3 linked regions of the Homo sapiens genome follow. The protein of the gene in region 3 interacts with the protein of the main gene of each other region in a pairwise test. Each region holds a gene or a part of one and is shown on either strand. Other genes may lie near its edges.

The links.
Region 1: the proteins of AP2S1 (region 3) and AAGAB interact in binary tests that used the Homo sapiens proteins (3 or more experiments, as listed by UniProt).
Region 2: the proteins of AP2S1 (region 3) and RNF41 interact in a protein complementation assay, tested with the Homo sapiens proteins (one study listed by BioGRID).

Annotation. Positions count from the first base shown.
Region 1 is NC_000015.10:67,234,162-67,237,814, reverse strand, and holds part of AAGAB (alpha- and gamma-adaptin-binding protein p34), read left to right. Parts: intron 1-994; coding exon 995-1,185; intron 1,186-1,310; coding exon 1,311-1,407; intron 1,408-1,746; coding exon 1,747-1,836; intron 1,837-3,653. UniProt on the Homo sapiens protein: May be involved in endocytic recycling of growth factor receptors such as EGFR.
Region 2 is NC_000012.12:56,211,857-56,215,509, reverse strand, and holds part of RNF41 (E3 ubiquitin-protein ligase NRDP1), read left to right. Parts: intron 1-1,439; 5' UTR 1,440-1,462; coding exon 1,463-1,552; intron 1,553-2,371; exon of another isoform or gene 2,372-2,514; intron 2,515-3,653. UniProt on the Homo sapiens protein: Acts as E3 ubiquitin-protein ligase and regulates the degradation of target proteins. Polyubiquitinates MYD88. Negatively regulates MYD88-dependent production of pro-inflammatory cytokines.
Region 3 is NC_000019.10:46,844,302-46,847,954, reverse strand, and holds part of AP2S1 (AP-2 complex subunit sigma), read left to right. Parts: intron 1-1,812; coding exon 1,813-1,962; intron 1,963-3,653. UniProt on the Homo sapiens protein: Component of the adaptor protein complex 2 (AP-2). Adaptor protein complexes function in protein transport via transport vesicles in different membrane traffic pathways.

The sequences.
Region 1 (3,653 bases), on a different chromosome or scaffold from region 3:
TATGCATTGACGAGGAGTTTGTGACTGTTTTTCATTATATTCTTCTGATAAGTCAATTAATGGCATGTCATTTTACTTCTATAAGCTGATTTTCCACATTTGTATAAAGTGGAGGTTATGGGTATGGGTGTGAGAGACGGGAGTTTAGGTTGGAACAACTTCTAACTTCTCTTCCAGTTGTAAATACTGTATAACATAATGGAAGCAAAATGCTTCCATGGCTCCATAACCATGTCTATATTCATTTGTTCACCATTGACTTGTCTCTTACTGTGGGGATTTCCTGTTATATACATGCTGCACATAGATTTCCAAAAGATTCAGTTATAATCTAAAACATTTATAGTAATTTGCTTGGCTATTACACATTTAAAATTTATCGGAAGTGTCTTGATCAAACAAGAATTTAGGTTGGCTTTCAAAGAATGTGAACAAGGCTGAATATAAATAGGATTGGGGTCATTTATCAGTATCCATTCTTTTATTTCATTAGCTGAATTAATGTCTAAGCATTCAGTCCAAGAAATATATGTAGCTCTTCTATTTTATTAATGGTTTAGCCTTAATCCTATCTTCCTTTTAGTTTGCAATAAGTACAAAATAGTTACAAATTCTAGAAGATTGTTATTGTCTACCTCCTATGAAGTACTTAAGCAATACAATAAATAGAGCTGTCATTCTTTGTCTTCTACTTGCTCTTTTCTGGATATTTGGTTATATGACTGTTTTTTCCTTTACTACTGTCTAATCTAGTTCACAATGATTTTTGTGTTCTTAAAGAGAAAATGTCAATGACTTAAATTATATCACCATAACTTTTATAATCAGATGATCAGAGAATATAGGATTAAAGCTAATAAATGCAGGGTCCTTTGAAATCCTCACATAAAAGGAAACAGCAAAAGTACCAGCTTTATCTGGTATCTGACTGAGAAAATCAACCAATGTATATTGGTTTTGCACTTTACATGGTAATGTTGTCATTTATTTTTAGATATCCTTGGAACAGAAGATCTTATTGTGGAAGTGACTTCCAATGATGCTGTGAGATTTTATCCCTGGACCATTGATAATAAATACTATTCAGCAGACATCAATCTATGTGTGGTGCCAAACAAATTTCTTGTTACTGCAGAGATTGCAGAATCTGTCCAAGCATTTGTGGTTTACTTTGACAGCACACAAGTAAGACTTTGTTTTCTATGAAGGCTTGAATAAGAAATTATTGCATGCCTTCTTTTTTTCCCATTACATTTTGTCTGACTATCTCTTTTCTGTTTTTGTTTGTTTATATTTTTTGTTCCCTCTAGAAATCGGGCCTTGATAGTGTCTCCTCATGGCTTCCACTGGCAAAAGCATGGTTACCTGAGGTGATGATCTTGGTCTGCGATAGAGTGTCTGAAGATGGTAAGGCCTGTGGATGGGACAGTAGTTGGTACATGCATTTGCCATTCCTTGATAAACAGAGTACATCTGTTTCTTTAACTTAGGACATACATCCCATGTGACTTTATGGCTTTATGAAAATATTTTCAGCTATTTTTCTTTGGAATCTTGTAATACTTACTTTTTTTTTAAGAATGGATACTTCGGGGCTGAGAAGTCATTTTCTTTTTATTATTTTAGATGCCTTTAGAATAACATTGACATTAAGGGAAACACATTGAGATTTGTGAAGAATATTGCAGGAATAGTCATGTTTTATTTTCTTTTTACTTATGAAGATTCTTTTGCATATTATTTTAGGTATAAACCGACAAAAAGCTCAAGAATGGTGCATCAAACATGGCTTTGAATTGGTAGAACTTAGTCCAGAGGAGTTGCCTGAGGAGGATGGTAAGTGTTTATGTGTTAGGAGAAAATATGGCACTTAGATATGAGAGATTATTTTAATTCAGGGAAGAAGAATCACAGCAAAATTCAAGAAACTTTTTTCCCCAGCTGTTTCAAGGATTTAAGCAAAATCCATTGATGTAATCTTATAATCTTACACTTAGTGTAATAATTCATTTTTTTGGTTTTACCACCTGTTTTAGAACTTTTGAAAATGTGTGTTTTTCTTATGGATAAAGGTATAGGGCTGCTTTCTAAAATCTTTGTCATTTCCATAATCCTTTTTCCTTTCCCTACTGCTGAAGAAGGAGAGTTAGACCTTCGTAGTAGTTAAAGTTGATGTTTCTTATTTTGAATTCATAGTAACCTAAGGCTGAATTCCCAAGAATCGCAGGGGACATTTCAAATCCATTTGAATGTCTTTTGGACATTTGAAGCCAAAAGATAGACCCCAAATTTAATCCCCCACCTCCACCCCAGGTAGCTCTGCAATCGCTGTCCTCCGCTATTGCTGGACCTTCTATTTCTTCCCCTCTTCTACTCCCCTTCCCCATTTCTTTTCTCATCTTTTCTCCTTTGAAGTACACCTGTTTTGGTATCTACCAGGATAAGAGGGTTTTTGGTTCACCAAAACCTTATAATCTGGTACAAGAGATGAAACTTACAGATAATTGAATTACCAAGTGGAATGTCATAAGTATTATAGAAGAAATAGTAGTGCTGTGGTATTTTAGAGACCGGAGAGCTTATTTTTGTTTAAAAGTGCAGAGAACGTGTTGGCATTGTGACCTCTCACATGTCAGCTGCTCCATGGGGAAGAAGTTAGAAAAGGTCCTGGGCTTGTAGTGAGAGGACTGCTGGAGAGGTGGCATTGTGAATATGCCAGTTGTTCCAAAAGACATTCTGGGCAGGGGCAACCAACGTGAATTAAAGTACATAGATAAGACATAAGCAGTCATTTCAAGAAACTTGTATTTTTCTTCAAGGAATTAAGAAATATTTTTCTATATTCTGGTTTTATTTATAATTTTTCCAAAATGCTGTTACCTTTGAGAATAAAACCTGCTGGAGAAGAAGAGAACAAAACTGAAATAAAAACTCTGGTTTTTCTCCTTGCTCATTTTAAAGAGTGTTGAAAATTAGCATGTACATCTTTTTCTGTGTTTTTCTAGGTCCCTGAAACTTGTGCCCTGTTTTGTGTATGTGAGCCTGTGTGATTTCTGGCACTAGAATTTTCTCTTTCTCTTGTCCTTGGGAGTCAGTATTTGACTGTTATCATTTTGGAATCTCTGCTCCTTTATACTACTTTATTTCTCGTAGCCCTTTGTCTGAATAATGTTCTTGTATTCATTCAGCTTAATCTTAAAATGGGTTTTTTGATATGTCATCTTTAGGTAAGGTAATGAAAACCTTCCTAGACTTTTAAAATACAAATTATTCCTAAGCCATATTTCCTCATCTTTTACTTGCATGTATTATTCAAACATGAATATAGGACTTTATGCTAGTTTGTATTAATTTTCCTCTTACTGGTACTAGCTCTTCATTTCAGACCACATTTTTGGTTCCTGGTTATATCATCTAAAGTATTAGTTATTCTTTTGAGAATTAAGTCATTCACAATTAAGATAAACATGACTTTTAGGTCTTCATCCAGACATTGGTGGTGATAAACTTATCTTGGTAGAGTATTTTCTTTCTTTATTTTTATTTATTTATTTATTTATTTGAGACAGAGTCTCTCTCTGTTGCCCAGGCTGGAGTGCAGTGGCACGATCTCTGCTCACTGCAAGCTCCACCTCCTAGATTCACGCCATTCT
Region 2 (3,653 bases), on a different chromosome or scaffold from region 3:
TGACCTCATGATCCGTCTGCCTCAGCCTCCCAAAGTGCTGGGATTACAGGCATGAGCCACCATGCCCGGCCCTCTCTTCTCTTCTTTATCCCCATCACCACCACCACCTAAGTTCAGACTCTTACCGTCACTCTCCTGACTTAGATGTTCTTCCGGTCTCCAGTTTCTCCCCTGTTAACATACTGATTCTAAAATGGAACTATTATCACATTGTTTTTTAAGTCCTTCAGTGGCTCTCTCATACCCTTCAGAATAAAGTCCAAAATCCTCACAGACTTTTCACAGCATGGCCCTTGCTTGCCTCTCCAGCCTTGTCTCTTGACAGGCCCTCCCTCCCACCTCTCAGGTCAGCCTTTTCTTGAATCACTTGAAATTCTCTGAACCTATCATATGCCCTCTTCTGGGCATTTGGATGTGCTATTTTATGTGCATAACACCCTAATGCCCTGCTCCCCCAACATTTAGCTGACTCTTGCCCTACAGGACACGTTTCTGGTGACGCCCAGTCCTGGAAAACTTGTCAAAACCACCCTCTGCTTTCAGCCTGGGTTAGGTATTCATGTCTCTTGTCCTCATAAGGTCCTGTCTCTACTCTGAGTATTTATCACTTTATATTTTAAATGTGTGCTTATATAATGTCTTCCCCCATTAGAATTACATTTCTTTTTTTCTTTTTTTTTTAAGGCAGAGTCTTACTCTGTTGCCTAGGCTAGAGAGCTGTGGTGCAATCTCGGCTCACTGCAGCCTCTGCCTCCTGGGTTCAAGTGATTCTTGTGCCTCAGCCTTCCAAGTAGCTGGGATTACAGATGTGCATCACCACGCCCAGCTAATTTTTGTATTTTTAGTAGAGCTGGGTTTTCATCATGTTGGCCAGGCTGGTCTTGAACTCCTGACCTCAGCTCATCTGCCTGTCCCGGCCTCCCAAAGTGCTGGGATTACAGGCGTGAGCCACTGTGCCAGGCCTTAGAATTAATTTTTTTTTTTTTTTTAGAGACTGAGGCTCGCTGTGTTCCCCAGGCTGGAGTGCAGTGGCGCGATCTCGGCTCACTGCAACCTCTGCCTCCTGGGTTCAAATGCTTCTCCTGCCTCAGCCTCCCGAGTAGCTGGGATTACAGATGCGCATACCACACCCAGCTAATTTTTGTATTTTTAGTAGAGACAGGGTTTCACCATGTTGGCCAGGCTGGTCTTGAACTCCTGACCTCAGGTGATCCGCCTGCCTCGGCCTCCCAAAGTGTTGGGATTACAGGCGTGATCCACTGCACCTGGCCAGAATTAAATTTCTTGAGTCAGCTTCCACCGAGCCAAATGACTGCTGCATAGTAGACTCCCAGTAAATATTTGTTGGATAAATGAATGGATCTTGGCAATGAGTGTATGTTTGTCACATATTTGTAGGCTTCTTCTGAACTGGCCTCTTTTTCCTGTTGTCCTTTCAGGACCTGGGTTTCAGTGATGAGACATGGGGTATGATGTAACCCGTTTCCAGGGGGATGTTGACGAAGATCTTATCTGCCCTATTTGCAGTGGAGTCTTGGAGGAGCCAGTACAGGTGAGTTGGTCTGATGGCAGGTTTGGTGGGGCAACAGGTAGCAGTGGAACTAGTAGAAAATATTCATGGGCAGCGGGACCCATGGTGAAGTCACTGTGTTCTTCTCTCCACCCTCACCCAATAGAGATTTAGGTCAAAGGAGTAATGGTGACTACAAGAATAAGGCCTTCCAGAATCAATCTAGAGGTGGATGCCACAGAGATCCAGTGGTTCAGATTTTTTTCTGAGGTCACTCTGAAAGATTTCTCCTGTAAAACAGTCAGCTGCTTGTTTCTGTCTTGTGATAGTAGCTGGGTAGCTTCCTTTCCTCTACAGGAACTCTTACTAGGTTCCATCTTCCTGTCCGTGATTGAACTTCTGGACTCTCCTAATAAGTTCTCTCTGCATTTTTATGATGTAGTGCTTCAGGTAATCAGCCAGGCTCCCTGCAGGCCTCTTCTACCTGCCTACTGTCTAACAAATAGGAAGGCTGGGCACAGTGGCTCACACCTGTAATCCCAGCACTTTGGGAGGCCAAGGTGGGTGGATCACGAGTTCAAGAGCCATCCTGGCCAACATGGTGAAACCCCGTCTCTACTAAAAATACAAAAATTAGCTGGGCGTGGTGGCACACACCTGTAGTCCCAGCTACTCAGGAGGCTAGACAGGAGAATTGCTTGAACCCGGGAGTAGGAGGTTGCAGTGAGCCGAGATTGTGCCACTGCACTCCAGCCTGGGTGACAGAGTGAGACTCCATCTCAAAAAAAAAAAAACAAAAACAAATAGGAAGTGGGGAACTGTATGTACTGACCTATTTTTTTCCTGGGATCTACTGAAAAGACCAGCTTTTGATACAGCCATGCACTCTGCATTTTGATGTGAAAGCTGCCACCTTCAATAGGTCATTTCTCTGCCAGCCTTGCCAGACCAGAGTCAGTTGTATCATCCTGGGGCAAGTATGAGGAGAAGCTCACGATTACCAGGCAAGTACAATGAGTGAGGTGAATCCTTAAGAGTTGTATTCATGGGACAGCATCCTCCAGGATCCTTATTGCCCTCATTCTGTAAATACCAATTAATCCTTTCTCTTTCCTGGCTATCTAGAGATTATCACATTTTCCAAACCAGGACACTAGGCAATGAGGTTTCATGGCCCTTCCCCCATTCACTGCTCACCTAACTCCCAGGGGCTCCCCTTGAGCCTTTATTTTTTCTCCCAGTACTACTCCAAAAGGAGTACTGATGCCTTGAGCTGAATAAAATTCAGACTGCATTCCAATGGCAACCAACTCTGGACCTGTCTTCTTTCTAGGCCTTTGCAGTCTGCTGCCATTAGAGGCATATTAGATGGGTGTGGAGCAAGTCATCAAGTAGTAGTGTCAAGAGGTCACAGGGTGTGTCAGGTTCCCTCCTCACCCTGGCAGGGCCTTGTCTGTTTTCTGGCACTATCATTTTAGGCAAGTCACTTATGGAAAGGTGAGTCGTAGTTGGTGACAGTCTAGTCAGAAGCCACCCATCTACCTCCAGGCTTTATCTTCTGAGGAGCAGAGCAGGCAACCCTCATGATGCCAGGTTCCCAGACACATTTCTAAGGTTAGAAGGCTCCTGCTAGGGATGCTGATTTCCCCACATCATAATTATTTATTTTTTGAATAGGTGAAAAATGAACATAGTTCAGAAATCAAAAGGTATACAGTGAGAATTCTCACTTCTGTCTTTATTACTGTGCACCTAATTCCCCCACAGATAACTATTTTTATTAGTTTATTTGGTATCCTTCCAGTGTGTCTTAAGGCAGATATAAGCAAATATGAATAGATGTCTGCATATATATGTATTTGTGTATACATATGTATATATGAATATATCTGTGTTTCACCATGTTGGCCAGTCTGGTCTTGAACTGATCTCAAGTGATCTGCCTGCCTTGGCCTCCCAAAGTGCTGGGATTACAGGCATGAGCCACCATGCCCGGCCTTATTTAGCTTTGTTTTGTTTTGTTTTTTTGAGATGGAGTCTCACACTTTAGCCTAGGCTGGAGTGCAGTGGCATGATCTTGGCTCACTGCAAGCTCTGCCTCCCAGGTTCACGCCATTCTTCTGCCTCAGCCTCCTAAATAGCT
Region 3 (3,653 bases):
GCCAGCAATCTCACTCTTAGGTATATACCCAAGAGAAATGATCCATCCACACGAAAACTCATACACGAATGTTCATAGCAGTATTATTCATAATAGCCCTAAAGCAGAAACAACCCAAATGCCCGAAGTACGGCCTTATCCATCCAACAGAGGATCACTCAGCCACGGAAAGGAATTGCAGCTCTGCCGCTTGCCACCCCACAGATGAGCCTGGAAAACGTCACGCTGAGTGAAGGAAGCCAGACACGAAAGCCACAGAGTGCATGATTCCACTCATATACAATGTCCAGAACAGACACATCCACAGAGACAGAAAGGAGACTCGTGGCTGCCAGGCCCTGGGGGAACGGAGAGTGACTGCTAATGGGTGGGGAGTTTTTTGGGGGGAGATGATGAAAATGTTCTGGTATTAGATAATAAATTAGATAGTGGTGATATTAGGTGGGGTGCAGTGGCTCACGCCTGATGCAGCACTTTGGGGGGATGAGGTGGGTGGATCGCTTGAGGCCAGGAGTTCGAGACCAGCCTGGACAACATGGTGAAACACTGTCTCTACTAAAAATACAAAAAGTTAGCTGGGCGTGGTGGTGTGCACCTGCGGTCCCAGCTACCTGGGAGGCCTGCACCCAGGAGGTGGAGGTTGCAGTGAGGCGGGATCGCGCCACTGCACTCTAGCCTGGGCAACAGAGCTAGAACCTGTCTCAAAAAAAAAAAAAAAAGTGGTGATTTTTACACAACTGTGAATATATACTAAGTGAATATACCAAAAACCATTTAACTGTCTACATTTTAAGTGGATGGATTTTATGGTGTGTGAATTACATTTCAATTTTATAAAAAGTTAGGAAGCAAAGAGAAAAAAAGAAGTGGCAGAGCTGAGACTTAGCCCAAAGGAGTCTGAACCTCAAATGTTTATTGAGTATCTACCACCTACCAGCCACCGAACTAAGTTTATAAACTTTTTTTTTAACCTTTAAAAAAACCCTGGCTGACTGGGCGTGGTGGCCCATGCCTATAACCCCACACTTTGGGAGGCAGAGGCGGGCGGATCACCTGAGGTCAGAAGTTTGAGACCAGCCTGGCCAACATGGTGAAACCCCGTCTCTACCAAAAATACAAACATTTTCCAGGCGTGGTGGCGGGTGCCTGTAGTCCCAGCTACTCAGGACACTGAGGCAGGAGAATCGCTTGAACCTGGGAGGCGGAGGTTGCAGTGAGCCGAGATTGCGCCATCGCACTCCAGCCTGGGTGACAGAATGAGACACTGTCTGAAAATTTAAAAATAACAAAAAATATAATGAAAAAACCACCCTGGTGAGATGAATCTTCTTGGGAGACTTGTTTTGCTGGTGAGGAAACAGGCCTAGAGGGGCAGACAAAGCAGGGCACAGTGGCTCACACCTGTGATCCCAGCAGTTTGGGAGGCCGAGGTGGGAGAATTGCTTGAGTCCAGGAGTTTGAGACCAGCAACGTAGCAAGACTCTGTCTCTACAAAAAAAAAAAAAAAAAAAAACAGAGAGAGATAAGAGGTGGTGGAGGAGCCTGGGACTCGGGGCCCTGGAGCTGACTCCAGAGTTGGAGACTTGTGGAAGGGAAGTCACTCCACAGGGGTGCTGGAGGGACCCGGGATGAAGCGTGTGGCCAGGCCGGCCTGGCTTGGGTCTGGGGAGCAGCCGAGACCCCTGGAAGTCAGGCAGCAGGGAGGCCCTGAGCCCTATCTCCCCTCTGGGTGGATGGGTGGGGCCGTTGGGCAGCACCCAACCCGCCCTCTCTGCCTCTCTCACTTCCTCCTTCTCCTCCTGCTGCCCCCAGATCCGCTTTATCCTCATCCAGAACCGGGCAGGCAAGACGCGCCTGGCCAAGTGGTACATGCAGTTTGATGATGATGAGAAACAGAAGCTGATCGAGGAGGTGCATGCCGTGGTCACCGTCCGAGACGCCAAACACACCAACTTTGTGGAGGTGACGCCCGCTCCATGCCTCCTGCACCCCGCTGCTTCCTCGTGCCCTACTTCGCCACTCCCTGCCCAGCTTCTAGTTGCAAGAACCCCTTGGACCCTCTATCCATCCTATATCATTCACTCAACCTGCTTTGAGCTTGCTTGCTTCTTCCCTTCCTTTACTTGTACTTTTCATTGTGAAAAATCATAAACATACAGATTAGTACAATGAAAGAAAAGTAGATTGGAGATTCGTATACCTACTACCCAGATTTAATCAGTATTAATATTTTGCCTTTTTGTTCTGCATTGTTATTATTAATTTTTTTTGCCTACGATTAAAAAAGAATTTTTTTTTTTGGTCAAATTTTTTTTGCTGGTGCGTTTTTCAAACTTCCTATAGAATGTTCAAACACAGAAAAGTAGAGAGAATAGGCCAGGTGCAGTGGCTCATGCCTGTAATCCCAGCACTTTGGGAAGCCAAGGTGGGAGGATTGCTTGAGCCCAGGTGTTCAAGACCAGCCTGGGCAATGTAGCAAGACCTTGTCTTTATTTTTTATTTGATTGAATTGAATTAATTAATTAATTAATTAATTAATTACTTTTTTTGAGACAGAGTCTTACTCTGTCACCCAGGCTGGAGTGCAGTGGCATGATCTCAGCTCACTGCAACCTCCACCTCCCAGGTTCAAGCAATTCTCCTGCCTCAGCCTCCCAAATAGCTGGGATTACAGGCGTGCACCACAACACCAGGCTAATTTTGTATTTTTGGTAGAGACGAGGTTTCACCATGTTGGCCAGGCTGGTCTCGAACTCCTGACCTTGTAATCCACCCTCCTCGGCCTTCCAAAGTGCTGGGATTACAGGCATGAGCCACTGCGCCTGGCCTTTTTTGCCTTTTTTTTTTTTTTTTTCTGAAATGGAGTCTGTCTCAGTCACCCAGGCTGGAGTGCAATGGGGGCAATCTTGGCTCACTGCAACCTCCTCCAGGGTTCAAGCTATTCTCTGCCTCAGCCTCCCTAGGAGCTGGGATTACAGGTGCTCGCCACCACGCCTGGCTAATTTTTGTATTTTTAGTAGAGATGGGGTTTCACCATGTTGGTCAGACTGGTCTTGACCTCCTGATCTCAAGTGATCCACCCGCCTTGGCCTCCCAAAGTGCTGGGATTACAGGCGTGAGCCACCATGCCTGTCCCTCTTTAAAAAATTTTTTTTGAAACAGGAGCTCATTCTGTCACCCAGGCGGGAGTGCAGTGGCACGAACATGGCTCACAGCAGCCTTGACTTCCTATGTTCAAGCTACCCTCCCACCTCAGCCTCCTGAGTAGCTGGGACTACAGGCTTGTGCACTACCAAGCCCAGCTAATATTTGTATTTTTGGTAGCGATGGGGTCTCACCATGTTGCCCAGGCTGGTCTCAAACTCTTGAGCTCAAGTGATCTGCCTGCTTCGGCCTCCCAAAGTGCTGGGATTACAGGCATGAGCCACTGCGCCCAGCCAGGATGCAGGTTTAAATGGTTTGGTTAGGATGGCATTGCTGAAAAGGTGACATTGGAGCCAAGACCTGAAGGACTTGACGGGGAGGAAGGAGCCAATGTCTGAGAGGAACATTTCAAGCCAAGGGAACAGCAAGTGTAAAGTCCCTGGGGCAGGAGAATACTTAGGGCGTTCCAGGGATAGCAGGAATGCAGCCAGGAAGGGGAGGAGATGAAA